4 separate regions of the Homo sapiens genome follow, and all the other regions are linked to region 4. The links come from fine-mapping of genetic effects on gene expression. A gene starts in region 4. Each other region holds a variant in brackets. All regions are shown on one strand. Distances are between the middles of the regions.

The links. PIP is the estimated chance that this variant, and not a neighbour inherited with it, causes the effect.
Region 1: its variant is the best candidate, but not a certain one, in a credible set for the expression of INPP5D in subcutaneous fat (GTEx, PIP 0.54).
Region 2: its variant is the best candidate, but not a certain one, in a credible set for the expression of INPP5D in whole blood (TOPMed, PIP 0.58).
Region 3: its variant is the best candidate, but not a certain one, in a credible set for the expression of INPP5D in whole blood (TOPMed, PIP 0.77).

Annotation. Positions count from the first base shown.
Region 1 is chr2:233,161,942-233,166,979 of GRCh38, forward strand. INPP5D (inositol polyphosphate-5-phosphatase D) reads left to right here. Exons shown (of 27, transcript NM_001017915.3): 12 at 1,766-1,962; 13 at 2,366-2,483. Among named protein-coding and RNA genes, the nearest start is that of ATG16L1, 87 kb to the right of the region's middle. RefSeq lists an enhancer at 1,718-2,331. The variant C/T (reference allele first, on the strand shown) is at 2,656.
Region 2 is chr2:233,204,067-233,209,104 of GRCh38, forward strand. INPP5D (inositol polyphosphate-5-phosphatase D) reads left to right here. Exons shown (of 27, transcript NM_001017915.3): 26 at 60-651; 27 at 2,640-3,837. The coding sequence ends at 2,642. It also overlaps the pseudogene RN7SL32P. Among named protein-coding and RNA genes, the nearest start is that of ATG16L1, 45 kb to the right of the region's middle. The variant A/G (reference allele first, on the strand shown) is at 3,027.
Region 3 is chr2:233,177,101-233,182,138 of GRCh38, forward strand. INPP5D (inositol polyphosphate-5-phosphatase D) reads left to right here. Exons shown (of 27, transcript NM_001017915.3): 18 at 165-246. Among named protein-coding and RNA genes, the nearest start is that of ATG16L1, 72 kb to the right of the region's middle. The variant G/A (reference allele first, on the strand shown) is at 3,085.
Region 4 is chr2:233,058,004-233,063,041 of GRCh38, forward strand. It overlaps INPP5D (inositol polyphosphate-5-phosphatase D), which reads left to right and starts at 2,339. Exons shown (of 27, transcript NM_001017915.3): 1 at 2,339-2,609. The coding sequence starts at 2,476. RefSeq lists enhancers at 2,014-2,293, 2,894-2,983, 4,070-4,663, 4,664-5,038 and silencers at 2,494-2,573, 4,644-4,693.

The sequences.
Region 1 (5,038 bases), 100 kb after region 4:
GGGCCCTGCCCCTAAGCCCCAGCCCACCCGCACAACCTCCTTCCTGAGGAATTCCACCCTTTTCCTGAGATGATGGGTAAGAAAAACGAGCTTTGGGACTATCGTACCCCAAGAGCAGCTGGCGTGGGTTACTCTGTATGTCTAAATTGGAAAGTTTTAGGGAAAGAGTCTGAATATCTAGGTGAAGGGGCTCATGGGAACCCTGCCAGCCCTAGGCAGCTCACCAAGGGGCCCCAGGCCTGAGAGAAAGAAGTCCACCCTGAGTAGGGTTGCCAGATTTATCAGGAGAGAGACAGAGAGAGACAGAGAGATAGGTACGTAGACAAAGGATGCCCAGTTAAATTTTAACTTCATAGAAACAATTTTTTTTAGTATATGTTTAGCTACAAACAAATAAATACTAAATATATATGCTCATAGACATTATGCTGAATATATAGTATATATACATATGCTAAATAAGTGTAATTATTATATTAAATATGAATTATACTAAGTAATATTAGTTTAAGCATACAGCTAATAATATACTAAATATATGCTAAATATATTTTGTATTAAACATATATATTGTGTATTTACTAAACACATGCACTCTACTAAATATAAATAATACTAAATAATTTTTTAGTGTAAGTGTTCAGGTAGAAATAAATTAGATAGAAGACATCCAGATAAACTTATTCTAAAAACTACCAGTTTATCTGAAATTGGAATTTCACTGGGTGTCGTGTGTCCCCTACCCTTGTCCTGAGAGGAGTCTGGGAGGAAGAGGGTGAGCAGTGGCTGGCAGGGGCCTCCTGGAAGTGAAGTGACAGCTTGTCACTCGTGTCCCAGGGCCACAGCAGCCGTGGAGTAGAGCCCGGGCCAGTGCCCCAGGGGGTCACTTGTCCCCTTCGGTCCCTTTCAGTGTTTCTAATAAGAGACAATAGTCTGCCTGATCTCCTCCCTCTGGACATGGTCAGGGATGTCCATGACACAAGGGCAGGGGTGCCCTTCCCACAGAAGAGTATGGAAGGAGCCAGCTGAGGCCATGCCGCAGGAGGGCCGGGGACCCACCAGCCCGGGGGTTCGGGCACCCACTTTGAGCCTCTTGGGGGAGCAGAATTTAGCCACAGTCCATTTACTCCAATGCTTGGCTTCTTTGCACTTGTAAGGCAAGAAGCTCATCTCTTTGAGGAACAAAGTTTGCTCATCCTTCAAGGGCATTGTAGGGAGAACCGTTCAAAATTTCTTGATTGAGCTTCTTCAACTCAGTTTTGAAATGGGAATGCGGAGGAGTTTCCACACTCTCCCGTTTCTCTGGCTCACACCCAGGCATCCCTCCGCTCTGGGCTGGGATCTGTCTTGCAAGGGAGACTTTGTTGTCTCCCAACAATGGGTTAGAACCCGCCATCTAAAACTTGTCAGTTCCCTTGGCTGTCTTGAGAATAGGATGTGAGTTCCTTGAGGGACAGGACTGTGTCTCAATTATCGTAGCCTCAAAGTGCAGGACAGTGTCTGACATCAGGGAATCTTCTGGTGTTTCTATACCTTGAAACTTGACATTACGTTTAAAAAGAGGCTTAACTGAGCTCTAGCCCTAACCGACATCCTGGGTGAGGTTGGCGCCCAGGCCTCCATTGCAGGCATTTCTTTGGGCTGCCTGGATGGTCTTGTGTAATGACGTGACCTCCCTCACACTCCCGCCCTCTGTTTTGAATTCTCCTAATGCTTTGACTCGATGTGCCTTTGACTCACTTGGTGTTGGGTTTTGCTGTTGAAGGTAACGCCCCCCCTCCCAAGAAGATCACGTCCTGGTTTCTCTCCAAGGGGCAGGGAAAGACGCGGGACGACTCTGCGGACTACATCCCCCATGACATTTACGTGATCGGCACCCAAGAGGACCCCCTGAGTGAGAAGGAGTGGCTGGAGATCCTCAAACACTCCCTGCAAGAAATCACCAGTGTGACTTTTAAAACAGTGAGCAGCTGGCTGCACGCTGGGTGGGCTTCCGGGATAGAATCTTTGCTCGGCTGGGCTGTCTCAGAGGCAAGGGTGGGCTCAGCCTATCAGCTCTCAGTTTTCAAGGATGTCTGGAGGCCCCCACTGAGAGATGCGTCTGTATTCAGAAATAAATGGGATCTGTGGGGTATTGCTGAAAACCACTGAGTCCTCTATCTTCCCACCCTTGGTCAGCCCCGGTTCTCATCTTTAGGATGTTTTGTCTCGCCTATCAAGCATCGCTGGGAGTCCCCCGAAGGGTTGGGATTACAGACAGGATACCCCATACCCAGGGGCTGCGGCTGGGGCTGGGTGTGAATCACTGTGCCCTGGTTCACACCCTACACTTGGGCCGAGTATTGCAACGTTGTCCTCCCACCAGGTCGCCATCCACACGCTCTGGAACATCCGCATCGTGGTGCTGGCCAAGCCTGAGCACGAGAACCGGATCAGCCACATCTGTACTGACAACGTGAAGACAGGCATTGCAAACACACTGGGTGAGCAGGGCGGGGACCCTGTGTTCCTCCCACACCCTCTGCCTCAACTCTCGCGACCACATCATCCTGATCCCACCAGTAGTTCCCCGGGTTAAAAACAGAGAGCCTCACATCCTCAGATCCTGGCTCAGTCCTCAGCAAATAGGGGTGATTGGTCTCCCTGGCTGAAACT[C/T]ACTCAGGGTCTACACCAGCAGTCCCAGGGATCTAGCTAAAATGCAGGTTCCGACCCAGTAGATCTTGGGTGGAGCTCAGGGTTCCAAGTTTCTGACAGGTTCCCAGGCGACTTGAGCGCTGCTGGTCGGCCCGTGGGACCCATTTTAAGAAGCAAGAACCTAGAAGAGGCATTGGCCAACTTTTGCAGGAAAGGGAAGGGCCTGACAGTAAATATTTCAGGCTTTGCAGGCCACTCAACACTATTCCTCTCTGCCTTTCTGGTGGGAAAGCAGCCATAGGCAACCCAGAAAGCGAATGGGAGTGACTGTGTTACCAGTGAGACCTTCCTTACAAGCACAGGCGGGAGGTGGCTGGCCCCTGCCCTCGGTCCCTGTGCACCAGGTTGGATCTGGAAACGCTGGTGTCAGTGGAGAGTTGCTGGCTTCAGAGAGCAGTAACAAGGGCAAGAAGTCTTCATAAGTGTAGGAGTGCAAGCCTGTGTGTTTGTGTAGGATGTGTGTGTGAGTAGGTCTGTGTATGTGAGTTTGTGTGAGTGACAGCGTGCATGTGAGTGTGTGAGCCTGTGTAGGTGTGTGAGAGTTTATGGATGTGTGTTTGTGAGCATGTTTATGTGAGTCAATGTGTGAGCGTACCACCCCATATCTATGAGTGTGTGTCTATATGTGTGTGAATCTATGCATGTGTTTGAGTGTGTCTATGTGAGTCTATGTATGTGAGTCCGTGTATGAGTGTACCACCCATATCTATGTGTGTGAGTGTCTGTATGTGTGAGTCCATGCATGTGTGTTTGTGTGTGTTTATGTGAGTCTACATATGTGAGTCCGTGTGTGAGTGTACCACCCCGTATCTATGAGTGTGTGTGTGTCCATGCATGTGTTTGTGAGTGTATTTATGTGAGTCTATGTATGTGAGTCCGTGTGTGTGTACCACTCCATATCTATGAGTGTGTGAGTGTCTATGTGTGTGTGTCCATGCATGTGTGTTTGTGAGTGTGTGTTTATGTGCATCTGTGTGTGAGTGTACCACCCCGTATCTATGAGTGTGTGAGAGTCCATGCATGTGTTTGTGAGTGTGTTTATGTGAGTCTATGTATGTGAGTCCATGTATGAGTGTACCACCCCATATCTATGAGTGTGTGAGTATCTGTGAGTCCATGTGTCTGTGTTTGTGAGTGTGTGTTTATGAGAGTCTAGGTATGTGAGGGTGGGTGTCCGAGTGCATGTGCATAAGTGCTAGAGCCTCTCTGTGTGTTTGTGTGTGTGTGTGTGTGTGCCCGTGTGTGCACGTGGGGTGGTATACACACAGGGCTCCAGGGCTGGCATCAGGGGCGAGGCCAGTGGTTTTTGGTGGTTGGAGTCAGTGGAGTCAGGAACAGGACAGAGTCCCAGAGATAACAGGAAATAGAAGAATTGCTGCAATCGAACGTGCAAAGCTCTCTCAACTTTTCTGCTGACAAACCGCAAACTGCCCGCGTCCACCCCCACTCGTCCCCCTTCCTTCCTGCCACAGTAGAAGGGTGGGGCTGGCGTGGCTATCCTGGCTGCGCCCACGCCCTCCTGCTGCCCAGCAACCGCCCCGGGTGTGGATTCCATCGCTCCCTGGGCTTCCAGTCCCTCCCACCAGCCCCTGCCCCGCTGTGCAGAATATGCTCGGACCTCCTAGGGCCACATAAAACCACCCCCTCAGCCAGACCAGTTCCTGGTCATCCTGGCCTCAGGGCTGGGCACTGGGTCAGCTTCTGAGCAGGCAGGAGCTCTGCTCATGTGGACCTGACACACATTGCATGAGCAGACGGGAGGAAAAGAAGCCAGTTCCTGGGAGGGAGTGCACTGGCGAAGGAGTGTGTGGCGTGGGCAGAGAGCAGAGGTCAGGGGCCTCCCTGAGAAGGGCAGTGCGACTGGCATCTGAGGGGTGAGGAGAAAGGCCTGGCCAGAGTCCCAGCTTTATGACCATTGCAGGGCAGCTTCTGGGCTGTGCAGCTCACACACACCTTCCCCTCCTTCCCCTCCTTCCCCTCCTCTCTGCCCTGGGGCCAGCCTCCCTCCTCCACTCCCCTGAAATGGCTCCCAGCCATAATTAGCACAGGACAGAAACAGCAAATGCTGGTCGGTGTGGTAGGCTCACGCCTGTAATCCCAGCACTTTGGAAGGCCGAGGCCGGTGGATCACTTGAAGTCAGGAGTTCGAGACCAGCCTGGCCAACATGGTGAAATCCCATCCCACTAAAAATACAAAAATTAGTTGGATGTGGTGGTGCGCACCTGTAATCCCAGCTGCTTGGGAGGCTGAGGCAGGAGAATCGCTTGAACCCGAGAGGTGGAGGTTGCAGTGAGCTGAGATCATGCCACTGCACTCCAGCCTGGGTGACAGAGCGAGACTCTA
Region 2 (5,038 bases), 150 kb after region 4:
CATGCTCCCATGTCTTCTCCCCTGGACATGTGTCTTCCCTGCTCTGTCCCTGGCTCTAGGCCCAGTGACCTGGGGAAGAACGCAGGGGACACGCTGCCTCAGGAGGACCTGCCGCTGACGAAGCCCGAGATGTTTGAGAACCCCCTGTATGGGTCCCTGAGTTCCTTCCCTAAGCCTGCTCCCAGGAAGGACCAGGAATCCCCCAAAATGCCGCGGAAGGAACCCCCGCCCTGCCCGGAACCCGGCATCTTGTCGCCCAGCATCGTGCTCACCAAAGCCCAGGAGGCTGATCGCGGCGAGGGGCCCGGCAAGCAGGTGCCCGCGCCCCGGCTGCGCTCCTTCACGTGCTCATCCTCTGCCGAGGGCAGGGCGGCCGGCGGGGACAAGAGCCAAGGGAAGCCCAAGACCCCGGTCAGCTCCCAGGCCCCGGTGCCGGCCAAGAGGCCCATCAAGCCTTCCAGATCGGAAATCAACCAGCAGACCCCGCCCACCCCGACGCCGCGGCCGCCGCTGCCAGTCAAGAGCCCGGCGGTGCTGCACCTCCAGCACTCCAAGGGCCGCGACTACCGCGACAACACCGAGCTCCCGCATCACGGCAAGCACCGGCCGGAGGAGGGGCCACCAGGGCCTCTAGGCAGGACTGCCATGCAGGTGCGCTGCGCCACACGTGGGTTCGTGTGCATTTGTGTGTGTGTGCATGCGTGAGTGCGTATGTGTGTACCTATGCATATGTGTGTGCATGTGTGTGTGCACGCATGCATATGTGCGTGCATGTGTGAACGCATGCATGTGCACACATGCGAGTGATGGTCCTGGGAACTGCTCCATGAGAAGGGAGAGTCAGGATTTGAACCCAGGTCTGCCTGTCCCACACATCCCTGACCCTGCATTGCCTCTGCAGCAGTTGTTAAAAGGAAGAAAGGCGGGGCTGTGGATAAACTTAGTCTAGTGTCAGTCCCAGAGGAAGAAGATTCCATAAAGAAAAGGAGCCTAAATCATTTATATCTCATTGTTATTATAAATTTGTTTTGCAACTGAGTTTCGCCAGGCACAGTGGATCACGAGGTCAGGAGATCGAGACCATCCTGGCCAACATGGTGAAACCCCGTCTCTACTAAAATACAAAAAATTACCCGGGCATGGTGGCGCACGCCTGTAGTCCCAGCTGCTTGGGAGGCTGAGGCAGGGGAATCGCTTGAACCTGGGAGGCAGAGGTTGTGGTGAGCCGAGATTGCGCCACTGCACTCCAGCCTGGTGACAAAGCAAGACTCCGTCTCAAAAAAAAAAAAAAAAAAAAATTAAAAAACAACAACAACGGAGTTTCACTCTTTGTTGCCCAGGCTAGAGTCCAGTGGTGTGATCTCGGCTCACTGCAACCTGCGCCTCCTGGGTTCAAGCGATTCTCCTGTCTCAGCCTCCCGAGTGGCTGGGATTACAGGCACCTGCCACCATGCCTGGCTAATTTTTGTATTTTTAGTAGAGATGGGATTTCACCATGTTGGCCAGGCTGGTCTCGAACTCCTGACCTCAGGTGATCTGCCTGCCTGGGCCTCCCAAAGTTCTGGGATTACAGGCATGAGCCACTGCACCCAGCCTCATTGTTATTATTAAGTCGCATTCATACTTGAAAATTTCCCAATATTTTGGAGAATTCAGCACACTTTCCCTCTCCTTCATGTAAAATAAAAAATTTTTTGAGCAAAACTAACAGTGATTAAGAACAGACTCCAGGCCGGGCGTGGTGGCTCATGACTGTAATCCCAGCATTTTGGGAGGCCGAGGTGGATGGATCACCTGAGGTCAGGAGTTCAAGACCAGCCTAACCAATATGGTGAAACCCTGTCTCTATTAAAAATACAAAAATTAGCTGGGCATTGTGGTGTGCACCTGTAATCCCAACTACTCGGGAGGCTGAGACAGGAGAATTGCTTGAACCCAGGAGGCGGAGGTTGCAGTGAACCGAGATCGCAACACTGCACTCCAGCCTGGGCGACAGAGTGAGACTCCATCTCAAAAAAGAGAACAGTCAGGCTATGTTGGATTTGAATCCCAGCCCTCCCACCTCCTGGCTCTGTGCCTTGAGCCTCAGTTTACCCATCTGTAAAAAGGGGCTGTTAATAGTACCTACCTCATAGACTTAGAAGGAGAATTGCATTGTAGGCTATTATGTATTATTACCATGTATTATCATCTATATAGAAATTATATATTTATATTTATGTATTTACATTGATATCCATTACATATCATTTCATATATATATACTATACATATTACATATGTGTATATATTTTATATATATATATGGTACGTACCTGGGTGTGGTGCCATGCACCTGTAGTCCCAGCTACTGGGGAGGCTGAGGCATGAGGCTAGCTGGAACCCAAGAATTCAAGGCTGCAGTGAGCTATGATTGCACCACTGCACTCCAGACTAGGCAACAGAGTAAGACCCCATTTCTAAAAAACAATTTTTTTAAATAAGCAGGTAAAGTACTTAGAGCAGTGAGTGCTGGCTCTTCTCAGCTACACGTTAAAGGAAGCCTGGCCTAGCCCACAGCATGCAGGGACCTGGGCCACTTAGTTCAACATGGCCTGGTGAGAATGAGCCCTGACAGCCCTTCTGTTCTTGTCCCACAGTGAAGCCCTCAGTGAGCTGCCACTGAGTCGGGAGCCCAGAGGAACGGCGTGAAGCCACTGGACCCTCTCCCGGGACCTCCTGCTGGCTCCTCCTGCCCAGCTTCCTATGCAAGGCTTTGTGTTTTCAGGAAAGGGCCTAGCTTCTGTGTGGCCCACAGAGTTCACTGCCTGTGAGACTTAGCACCAAGTGCTGAGGCTGGAAGAAAAACGCACACCAGACGGGCAACAAACAGTCTGGGTCCCCAGCTCGCTCTTGGTACTTGGGACCCCAGTGCCTCGTTGAGGGCGCCATTCTGAAGAAAGGAACTGCAGCGCCGATTTGAGGGTGGAGATATAGATAATAATAATATTAATAATAATAATGGCCACATGGATCGAACACTCATG[A/G]TGTGCCAAGTGCTGTGCTAAGTGCTTTACGAACATTCGTCATATCAGGATGACCTCGAGAGCTGAGGCTCTAGCCACCTAAAACCACGTGCCCAAACCCACCAGTTTAAAACGGTGTGTGTTCGGAGGGGTGAAAGCATTAAGAAGCCCAGTGCCCTCCTGGAGTGAGACAAGGGCTCGGCCTTAAGGAGCTGAAGAGTCTGGGTAGCTTGTTTAGGGTACAAGAAGCCTGTTCTGTCCAGCTTCAGTGACACAAGCTGCTTTAGCTAAAGTCCCGCGGGTTCCGGCATGGCTAGGCTGAGAGCAGGGATCTACCTGGCTTCTCAGTTCTTTGGTTGGAAGGAGCAGGAAATCAGCTCCTATTCTCCAGTGGAGAGATCTGGCCTCAGCTTGGGCTAGAGATGCCAAGGCCTGTGCCAGGTTCCCTGTGCCCTCCTCGAGGTGGGCAGCCATCACCAGCCACAGTTAAGCCAAGCCCCCCAACATGTATTCCATCGTGCTGGTAGAAGAGTCTTTGCTGTTGCTCCCGAAAGCCGTGCTCTCCAGCCTGGCTGCCAGGGAGGGTGGGCCTCTTGGTTCCAGGCTCTTGAAATAGTGCAGCCTTTTCTTCCTATCTCTGTGGCTTTCAGCTCTGCTTCCTTGGTTATTAGGAGAATAGATGGGTGATGTCTTTCCTTATGTTGCTTTTTCAACATAGCAGAATTAATGTAGGGAGCTAAATCCAGTGGTGTGTGTGAATGCAGAAGGGAATGCACCCCACATTCCCATGATGGAAGTCTGCGTAACCAATAAATTGTGCCTTTCTCACTCAGCTGTGTGTGTGGCGTTTTTCCTGACATTCGGAGCCATAGATATCCTTCTAGATGGCAGGGCCTGCACAGGGCACAACTGAGGCAGTTAAGGGTTCATGGTGGTGATGGATGGTGTTGCCCTGACCAGATGGGACACCATAGAGCCAGTTTGAAGCTGGTCCTGGACTAGGAACAGGAGTAAACCGCACCCCTTCCTTCCTTCCACCCACACATCTTCCTGGCACTCCAAGCACCCTGCGGCCACCCAGAGGCCACGAGCATCCCCTCCAAACCTGCTGTCCTGCAGCCCACAAGTTCCTCCCAGCTTTTATAAGTTTTCACCACTTAAGCTGCAGTGACAAAAAAAACACGTCAACACTCCCCAGGTCATGGGTTCCCAGGTCAGGGAGTAGACCCCCGCCCAGAGGCACAGTGCGGGCCACTTCCACGGCGCCTCTGCCCCACCTTGGGCTGCCTGGCCTCTGCTTCTGCTCACAGACACCAGGCCTGGGCTCCAGGCAGGGCCTGGAGCCGTGTCTTTGGCAGCCTCCAAGCAAACCATTCACTCCCAAGCCTCAGTGGCACCTGGAGCCCAGCAGGGGCAGGACTGAGTGCCTGCTGGGACCATGGCTCCCTACCCCCACTCAGGTGTCCCCGCCCTGCAGGCTCACTGCCTGGTGTCCGTGTAGAACCTGACCTAAGTCCCAGGCCCCAGCCTCTGATTCAACAGACCAAGGGCCACGGTGGAGAGAGAGCTGGAGACACCCAGACATTCTTTAGTCTCCCAGCCCCCATCACCAGAGCTGAGGACCCAGGCATGGATGCCCATGGTCCCTGGGGAACCCACTGGCTGCTGGGGTGGGCTGGCCTGCTACACAAGTGCCATCATCTGCTCACCCACAGGGAGAATGTCAAGCCCAAGGCCCCATGCCCACTTAGGATGGATGTCTAGGCACTCCCCAGCATTTCTGTGGGTTCCCAGGAGATACGGGTAGGAGAGCAACTGTTTGGGGCATACATCATGCTCCCCGTCACCTGCTCTGGGTTCCAGTCACTCAAGCAAATGCAGTGCCCCCACCACAGTCAAACCCAGGGCTGCTGTGAGGACCTGGCTTTGATTGCACGTGGTCGGACAGCTGAGGCCCACCTGGTGCTCAGAACAGGAAACGCTGTGGAATGCAAGAATTTTCATCCTTGCCTTTTCCATCTCTCTACCCTGCA
Region 3 (5,038 bases), 120 kb after region 4:
GAGCCATGTGAAAAAAGTTTAAAGCCACCTACAGGGAAATTCTATAAAAAGCCAACAGCCGATGAATTTGAGGATTACAGAGGCCACCAGTTAATCTGTTCTTTTACTGATTAAAAAAATAATAATAAGAGGCATTTTTTAAAGCCTATGACTTTGATTTGCAGATGAAGTACAACTTGCCTTCCTGGTGTGACCGAGTCCTCTGGAAGTCTTATCCCCTGGTGCACGTGGTGTGTCAGTCTTATGGTGAGTTCAAACACTGGGGAAAGCAGAACAGGATCAGAGAATGGCACCAAGCTGGGAGGTGTGACTGCCCTAAAATCTAAGGGCTTCAGTCTGTTGATGTGTCAAAGGGAGGAATTCACTGTAACCCTAATCAGGCGACCTGGAAATGTTGATGCTTCCCTGCCTGTCTTGTGCTGCCACCTAATCCATATCCCCTGCTTTAGGAGACATTTGAATTATAGAGCACTTTTTTTCTTTTTCTTTTTGAGACGGAGTCTCACTCTGTCACCCAGGCTGGAGTACAATGGCATGATCTCATCTCACCACAACTTCTACCTCCTGGGTTCAAGCGATTCTCGTGCCACAGCCTCCCCAAGCAGCTGGGATTACAGGCTCCTGCCACCATGCCTGGCTAATTTTTGTATTTTTAGTAGAGACGGGGTTTCACCATGTTGGCCAGGCTGGTTGCAAACTCCTGACCTCAGGTGGTCAGCCCACCTCGGCCTCCCAAAGTGCTGAGATTACAGGCATGAGCCACCGCGGCCGACCCGGAGCACTTTTTTAAAAATTCAGTTTTATTTCTTTTGAAAAGAACATATTAAGTGTGAACCATATGAAAGTGTTTTTGTAGGTCAGAAATAGTTATTGGAAATTCATATGGCTCAAACTAATACATGTCGCAAGTGTGTACACATATATACACATATATATTTGGGGAGGTTTAACCATAAATTGAGTTAAATTGATTTTTAGAAGGCATAACATGTAATATTAAAATAAATAATTATGGAATAAGTTATCAAAACAATTAAGAAATAACTGTTAGCCAGGCACTGTGCCACGTACCTATAGTCTCAGCTGCTCAATAGGCTGAGGGGGGAGGATCGCTTGAGCCCAGTAGTTCAAAACCAGCCTGGGCAACGTAGACTCCATCTCTGAAAAAAATGAAAGAAAGAAATGACTGTTAACTCTTGACCCTCAAAGTTGAAGGTGCACTGAAGGAGTTCTTAATTGCCTGAATGCTTATTCTGAAAAGCTACTGATTAGTTCCCATTACTTACGAAGTGAGACCTTAAAAATCCACAGAACAGAGTTGCTTTGAACACTTCACTGACTGAGAATTGTGGTATTTTATTATTTATTTATTTATTTATTTATTTATTTATTTATTTATTGAGACGGAGTCTCTCTCAGTCGCCCAGGCTGGAGTACAGTGGCAAAATCTCGGCTCCCTGCAACCTCCGCCTGCCAGGTTCAAGTGACTCTCCTGCCTCAGACTCCCGAGTAGCTGGGATATCAGGCACGCAGCACCACGCCTGGCTAATTTTTTGTATTTTTAGTAGAGATGGGGTTACACCATGTTGGTCAGGCTGGTCTCGAACTCCTGACTTCAGGTGATCCACCCGCCTCAGCCTCCCCAGGTGCTGGGATTACAGGCCTGAGTCACTGCGCCAGGCCCAGTGGTATTATTTTTAAAACACTGCGAATTCCCACACAATGGCCTCTAAAGGATGGCCACCCCAGTCCTTGGAGCAAGGAGAGGGGTGGGGGAATGCTGCCCGCTGGCCACCTTTGTGGCTCCCACTCTGTCTCTGGGGACTGGCAAATTTGGTCTCACTTATTTAACTCTGGTCCTATACTTTGAACTGACTTCCATTCCAGTGCCTGTCTCCTCCTACTGCCCAGAAGAGCCCAGAGCAGCTACCCTGAAATAGTTTAACACACGCACCCTGCATTCCTTGCTGAAGGACTGAGCTCTGTCTCCCAGAAGTGACGTCACTAGACGAACTTCACACAACACCTTTAGATGTGTGGGAAGGCAACCTGCCCTCATAGCCACGGCCAGGGCATTGTTCCAGCTTCCAAAGCTCAAAGTGCCTGAGTCCTACCCTCTGCCTGCAGCCTCCTCACTTGTGCATTCCCTCCCTGCCACCCGTCGGACTCTCCAGGCCTGTCACTCCTTCCCAGCCACACTCAGGGTCAACCCTGTCAATACTGTCCTTCCCACATCCTGCAGCTCCGTGCATCCTGCCAATTCTTGTCTCAACCATCTGTCTGCTTCAGCCAGCCTCTGCCGAGAGTCAGGAGATAGTGGAGGCTTGTAGAATTACCACTTACTGTTTTGCACCTAAACTTGGCATTCAAAACTGCTCGACAGTGGAGGCTTTAGAGAAAGAGGAGGGAGATCAGTCCGGAAGTGGCAATGAGGAGCAGGAAGGACACCCTTTGCCCCCACCTCCGGGCCCGGAATATGAGGGTTGGGGAGGAAAACAAGCCTCACCAGAGAGGCAGCAGTGTCTTCCGGGGAGGGCTGGGTTTGGGAGGTGACAGGAAGATTAAAGATACAGGGAATTTTGCTAATGATATTTCATTGAGTGCCAGAGGGCTCAGTAGAAGCGTTTAATGAGTTGGGGTTGAGGGGAGGCAAAATGTTGGAAAAGAAAAGGGAGTGAATGTCCAGAGCTCAGGAAACAGGGGTGACCTGGGAGCCTCAGTCTTCTCATGACAATTAACATAGCAGGCATATCAGCTGTCTATTGCTGCATAACAAACTGTCCTAAAACTCAGTGACTTAAAGCAAACATTTATTTGCTCGCGAGTCTCTGCGCTAGGCTGAATTTGGACTGCTCACCTCTGCTCTAGTTGGTGTCATCTGGGCACACTCAGGCAGGAGCCCATCAGATCTGGGGTCGGCTGGCTGTCAGCAGGCATAGGGGTGGTACTCATCATCCAGCAGGCCAGTGCTGGCTTCTTAGCTTCCTGGTCTCAGGGTTCCCAGATTCGAGTGTCACCAGTGGGGAAGTTCTTCTTAAGGCTCTGTTGGCCTCATGTTTACTAAGGTCCCATTGGCCAAAGAAA[G/A]TCACATGACCAAGCCCAGACTCATGGTGGGAGGGGACCACAGAGAGTGTGGTTACTGGGAGGAGGACTGGGTCTTTGAGGGTCACCCATCTTACAGTCCACCTCCTAGGCTTAAGGGCACACTGTAGTGCCATTGCTATTATGTTCAGTACATATCTGAAATATTCTGAGAATGCTTAAAAAAAAAAACCCTGCTCGTCAACCCATTAAATTCTCCCTGGAACACCCCTCCTCCACTGCCACAGCAAACCTGTACCCCTGTGCTCAGCCTGACTCCCCACCTCCATCCTCTCCTGCCTCACACAGCACTGGACCTCACTGATTTCTTCTTGCCTGTGTCCAGTTTTTTGTTTTTTTTGTTTTGTTTTGTTTTTTGAGACAATCTTGCTTTGTTATCCAGGCTGGAGTGCAGTGGCACCATCCTGGCTCACTGCAACGTCAGCCTCCCAGGTTCAAGTGATTCTCCGCCTCAGCCTCCCAAGCAGCTGGGATTACAGGCGCCCACCACCACGCCCAGCTAATTTTTGTATTTTTAGTAGAGACGGGGTTTTGCCATGTTGGCCAGGCTGATCTCGAACTCCTGGCCTCAAGTGATCCACCCACCTCGGCCTCCCAAAGTGCTGGGATTACATGCGCCCACCACCATGCCCAGCTAATTTTTGTATTTTTAGTAGAGACGGGGTTTTGCCATGTTGGCCAGGCTGATCTCGAACTCCTGGCCTCAAGTGATCCACCCACCTCGGCCTCCCAAAGTGCTGGGATTACAGGCATGAGCCACCGTGCTTGGCCTCAGGTCCAGTTTTTAGGCTGATGCCCTCGCATCTTCCTCCCTCCTGTCTCAGAGAAGGGGTAGCCTCCTCTTTCTTTCCTGCCTAGCCTTTGCCCCTGGACCCTTGACTCCATCTATTCCTTCTCCACTACCAACCAGTGCCCCCACTCCCATCCTTCTCTCCTGTCCCTTTCTCTGTTCTGTCTCATAGTTTCCATGTGTTTCTCTGGTGATCCTTAGTAAGTGAGCTTTTTTTCTTTTCATGTTTATTAGCCATCTGTATTTTTTGGTGAATTTTCTGTCCATATCCTTTGGTTGGTTGAAGGGTGGAGTGTTTATCTTTTTCTTGCTGATTTGTAAATGCTTTCTAAAAAGGATGCCAAGTCTGTTTTATCACCTTCTTGGTCTCCTTTGCTGGCGGTTTTTCCTTTGCCCGCCCATTCATGGTTGGTGTGCCCTGGAATTCCATCCTCGTCTCTTCTCATCCTTCGTGTGAAAGCCCAGACATGCTCAGGTCTTCTGCTTCCACCTAATCCTAAGACTCCACATCTAAAGATGCATCTCCAGCCTTGAGTGCCCATTTCCTGCCAGGCATCTCCAACGGGCTATCTTGAAAGAACTGTCTTTCTAGAACTGTCCTCTTTCTCTTGCCCCTTCCCAAAGTGCTCTGCTGCCTCCATTCTCACCCGAGCACCAAGCTCCTTAACAGAGTTTTCTACACTTAGCGTCCTCCACTCTCTCCCGGTTCTATGAGGCATCGTGGGATGGAAAAGGTGTCCCGTCTCTCCCACCGATGAGCTGAGTGGCCTTAAGTCCCCTTCCCACCCAGTGTTTGGGGCTCTTCATCAATAAAATAAAGTGAGCCAGGCGTGGTGGCTCACGTCTGTAATCCCAGCACTTGGGAGGCCGAGGCGAGTGGATCACCTGAGGTCAGGAGTTCAAGACCAGCCTGGCCAACATGGCAAAACCTCATCTCTACAAAATGCACAAAGATTAGCTGGGCATGGTGACACGCACCTGTACTCCCAGCTACTCGGGTGGCTGAGGCATGAGAATTGCTTGAGCCTGGGAGGTGGAGGCTGCAGTGAGCCGAGATCGCGCCACTGCATTCCAGCCTGGGCAACAGAACAAGATTCTGTCTCAAAAATAAGTAAATAAATAAGTACAATGATTAGACCAGAAAAA
Region 4 (5,038 bases):
CCTCCAAAGTAGCTGTAGCTGCGATTATAGGCACGTACCACACCCACCTGATTTTTTTTTTTTTTTTTTTTAGTAGAGACAGGGTTTCACCATGTTGGCCAGGCTGGTCTCAAACTCCTGACCTCAGGTGATCCACTCCCCTCAGCCTCCCAAAGTGCTGGGATTACAGGTGTTAGCCACTGTGCCTGGCCACTCTCTAGCCATTATTTGAAGTCTTCATTGATAAATCACTATCCCTCACATGAGTTTGTGAATTTTGTAATACGTTAAAATTATTTATATTGACTGGAGACCTACAAAAAAAAAAAATCCACCCACCAAAAGGGCAGCTCTGATCTAGATACTGGGATTTCCTGAATGTGGAGGGCAGAAGGGTGGGGGACAAGCCAGCTGACCATGCTGGATAGATCAGGCAATTGGGTGGAAAAGGAAGCAAAGTTGGGATGGGCCTTAAAAATGAGGGAAGAGTGCCCGTGTGGCGTGTGTGCCAGGGGATCTCACTCTGTGGAATGGCAAGGACCGTGGGAATAGAGGTGTGAGAGGTGGGGGGCTGGGGGTTTGGGGGAAGCTCTCTAAGTAGGGCAGTCTTGGCATGGTAGGGGTCTCTAGAGATGAGTGGGTGGAGGTGTAAAGGGACCAGTATTGCAAATGGATCCTCCTGGTGGCGTGGTCCAGGACTTCATGGATGTTGGTGGAGGCCAGCAGGGAAGTGAGAAGGGTGTGAAGGTACACAATGGGAGCATAGGAGATGACCCCATAAGGAGGGGGTGGACAGGTGCTGAGTGGAGGCGTGGGTGGGGAATGAGAGGCCTCCACACTGGGCTGCTGCAGAGGTGGCGTGCTGCGGAAGGGCCGGAGCATGGAGGCCAGTTCCCATCACCACTCTATCCCCACGCCTGGCTCCCAGCCTGGCCAGAGGTCCTTGACTGGGAGTGCTTTGTCTGCCCTACAGACTCGCCTGCCATGTGTGTTGCTCAGCGGGGAGGTGCTGGGGGCCCTGTTCTGGGACAACCATCAGTGTGACACATGTTGAGCCCCTGGGCACATGTGAGCTCTTTTACGAGCTACGTCCTTCAAGTTAGACAAGAAGAAACCAAGGCCGAGAGAGAGAAGAAACTTGACCAGGTTCCCACAGCTTGAATGTGGTGGCGCTGCCTGGCTGGTGCCCCTTCCTGGAGGGAGTCTGTTGTCATGTCCTGGAGGCCAAGGCCTGGATGTGGGATGGTGGGGGCACTCTTTGTGCAGCGGGTCAACACGTGCCCCTTCGGCCTTGGTGGGCCGGACCCAAGGACGGAAGGTGCCCAGGTCTGGGGGCTGAGGGATGGGTGTCCACCGCAGAGCCCTCAGAAATGACTGGTCCTGGATGGCGGTCCCTGGAGAGGCAGCTCCTCTTTGAGTGGTGGGCATATGTGGCCATGCCCAGTCTTGGAGGCGGTGCAGTCCGACCGGCCACCCCGACTGCTGAGACGCAGGACTCAGCACCCAGTGTTGTCCTTGGCCAGGCGGCCAGCCTGCCCTGTGGGGCTTTGGGGTTCTCCTCTCCGAGCTTGTTTCCCCAGCATCCTGGAGAAGCCCAGGGAAAAACCCAGCCTATGTTCCCGCTGTAAACGGCCCACATCCCCTCCAAGCTCCCTTTGTGTGTCTCCAAGCTGGACTGCAGGGATCAGAGCTGTGCTGCCCGTGCAGCACCCACCCGCCCCTGGGAATGAGGGTAATGGGGTCACAGAGCCATCACTTGGACCTTGGCGCCCTCGGCTGGTGGCAGCCAAGGTCTCCCAGCACCCAGGCCGCTGGGAGTCTCTAAAGGGGAGGGGTGGGGCTCGACTGTCCCCTCCCCCTCAAGTTTGCTCTGTCCTGGGCAGGCCGTAGTCCCAGTTGAGAAGCTGTGCCCCCTTGGGTGTTTTGGAGGTTCAGGGTGGGTGCTGAAAAGCCCTGAGGGAGAGCAGAAGGCTCGGGGGCCTGTCTAGGGCATGGCATCCCACGTGGGTGTCAGCACGGCCGCAGAAGAACCACTTCTCTGGCCCACCCATGCCTGCTAGGCCATGCTTCTTCAGAAGTGGCCACAACTCTCCTGACGTCTCCAGAGCCGGTCATTCCACCCAGGGGGACTTCAGCTGCCACTGGACACTTCAATTGTACGCTGCGACCAGTTGCCAGGAAGGAGAGGGCTGGCAAGAGAGCCGCGGCAGCCGTGGCAGGGTGTAGGGGACGGTGGACGGCCAGGGCCCCCCCCTCTCTCTCTTTCTCTCTCTCTCTCTTGCTTGGTTTCTGTAATGAGGAAGTTCTCCGCAGCTCAGTTTCCTTTCCCTCACTGAGCGCCTGAAACAGGAAGTCAGTCAGTTAAGCTGGTGGCAGCAGCCGAGGCCACCAAGAGGCAACGGGCGGCAGGTTGCAGTGGAGGGGCCTCCGCTCCCCTCGGTGGTGTGTGGGTCCTGGGGGTGCCTGCCGGCCCGGCCGAGGAGGCCCACGCCCACCATGGTCCCCTGCTGGAACCATGGCAACATCACCCGCTCCAAGGCGGAGGAGCTGCTTTCCAGGACAGGCAAGGACGGGAGCTTCCTCGTGCGTGCCAGCGAGTCCATCTCCCGGGCATACGCGCTCTGCGTGCTGTGAGTACAACCTGCTCCCTCCCCGGGCACAGATATGACAGAGGGGCTTAGAGGGGGCCCAGCTTTGAGATGGGTTGTTCTTATGTCACAGGACAGAGTGATCTGACATGCACACTTCCCCGCCACCCTGTCATGGACCTTGTCCTTGGAGTTCAGAGAGCTGGTCTCATGGCAGGTTTTGCAGCCTTGGAGCTGTCAGAACCACTCTGAGGCCTGATGTTACACCCCAGCTTCCCATGAGCTGTATGGACCTTGTGGCTTCCTTGGAGTCTGGGGACCGAGAGAAGGGAGTTTGGGCTTTTGGAGCCAGGAGGAAGCTCAGGGCTCTGTGGAGGTGGGTGTGTTAGAGATCAGCTCAAAGATGCCCAGCTCAGAAACCCTGAGAAGAGCAAAGGTGGCAAGGGGGACCCTTCCTGGAGCACCCAGGCTTCGGGCCCCTGGAGGAAGCTGTTGTTTGGCGAGCCAAGAATATGGGGTGAGTTTAATCAAGAAAGGACTTTCCATTCAGTCAGAAGCTGCTTTCAGGGGCCTGAGAGCAGAGGAAGTCACCATTACCACCAGCGAGCAGCCTCTTCTCTCTCCTGAGCACTTGGCTGTGACCGCTGCCCACCCCCCACCCCCTCAATTTGGGTCTCTGTCACCATCAACTCCTCCCACTGCCCGGTTGGGGATGTTACTGAATGTACCAGCTGTGCTAACAATGGAGGAACCAGCCACTTGCTGAAGGTTCCTTTCTAAAACCCCCTTCCTGTCCAGCGTCTGAAGGAGGCCCTTGCCCTGCAGCTCTCGGTCTAATCATAGGGGGGCCTTGCCCTGCAGCTCTTGGTCTAATCATTTTGCCGGGGCCTCAGGCAGTGCCGGAGTGTAGTCAGGGAAATGTGTGTCCACCTGAACATCTCAAGTAGCATCCCTGGGCTGGCAGAAATGTTCCCCCGAGCAGCCAGGGCCTTGTGCTTCTCCAGGCAGGAGGGGAATTGGGTGATGAACCCAGACCTGTTTTGAATACTGACTCACAGCTGGGACCTGTCGTGCTAAGCATTTGTTAGCCCATTTCATCCTCACCACAACCTAAAGTGAAGGTCCTGTTAAAAGCCCCACTTTGCAGATGAGAAATCTGAGGCCCTGGCAGGTTAAGTGAGTGACAACAGTCAAAGCCACGGCCATCTGCCCCCAGAGGCTGCAGCTGAGACCAGCAGCCTGTGGCCCAACCTCTCCTGCTCCCAGTCCAGCGGGGCAGGCATGTAGCCTTGCAGGGCTGGAGAAAGAAGCAAGGGGAGCCACAGTGTTTACAGGGTCAGCTGGGGCACTGGAAACCAAGCCAGGCTCGCAGCTGGTCGCTGGCCTGTGCTGACAGTCTGCAGCCCCACCTCCAAAGACTGGTTTCCTGTGTCCCCTCTCTCATGCCTCAGGGGAAGGAACGCAGGCCCAGGCTGCCTGGACTTCCCCAGTGGGGACCTGCTGCTGCCGGGGCCTTAGAAGGAGCAGGAAGATTCTCTTAGGCCTCTCACAAGCCCAGTCTGACTCCACCTGGCCCATGTGGGTTACTTGGATTTCTCTCCTGGCCCAGTGGGATCTTGTCCTGGCTGTTTGGTGTTGGCTGAGCCGAGGGCTTCCAGGGCCCCATCTCATTAACCTTCAACACAGCCCTTTGACCAGGGCTTGCTTTGTGGTTGCTCAGGTTACAGACATGGGGCGTGGGTCTCTCTGACTCCGAGCCGTGAGCATCTTAACGTCTAGGATTAGCCTGAGCCAGAGTCAGAGCTGGAGAGGCCTTGGAGAAGCTCTGGTGCAACAGCCCTGGCTTTTCAGGAGGTAGACAGAGGGCAGAGAGCCTGAGGCCTTTGTCCACCATGCTGGCTGGGGTCAAAACTGCTGGGATCCAGGCCAGTTCTCGTATTCCTTCCTCTACCTCTTCTCTCTGAACCCTTGTCTGCACTGAGTTCTCTCAGAGTCATGATGGGTGTGCAGTGTCTGCTCCTTAGAGAGGGACCTGTGGTGCCTACAGATGTCCACTATCCTCTCAGCCGAAGCCTCGTCAGCCTCCTATCCTGAGGCTGCTGGGCTGCAAACACCAGGAGTCCCACCCCTTGGCCAGACAAACCCTGGGCTCAGTGTTTCCCTTTCTCCTCTGCTCAGGGTGGGAAGCTTCCCTTCCTGCAGGGTCAGGCTCCACTGTAGGCCGTGGGTTGCTATGGACCTGCAGACTTTCCATACATCTGCAGGCTTCATATGGCTGCCACCCTGGATTTTGCCAATTACGGAGATTTTAAAACTAAAAACTAATTAAATGAATGATAACAAACTGTCATCTTCCAACACCTCATTTCTTGAAAGAAAGCAGCCTTTGACACCAAAAGAGGCAGGAAGGGCATTAAAAAAAAAAAAGCCAGTCATTTAAAGCAAAGAGATTGAACTTCTTGAAAAACAAA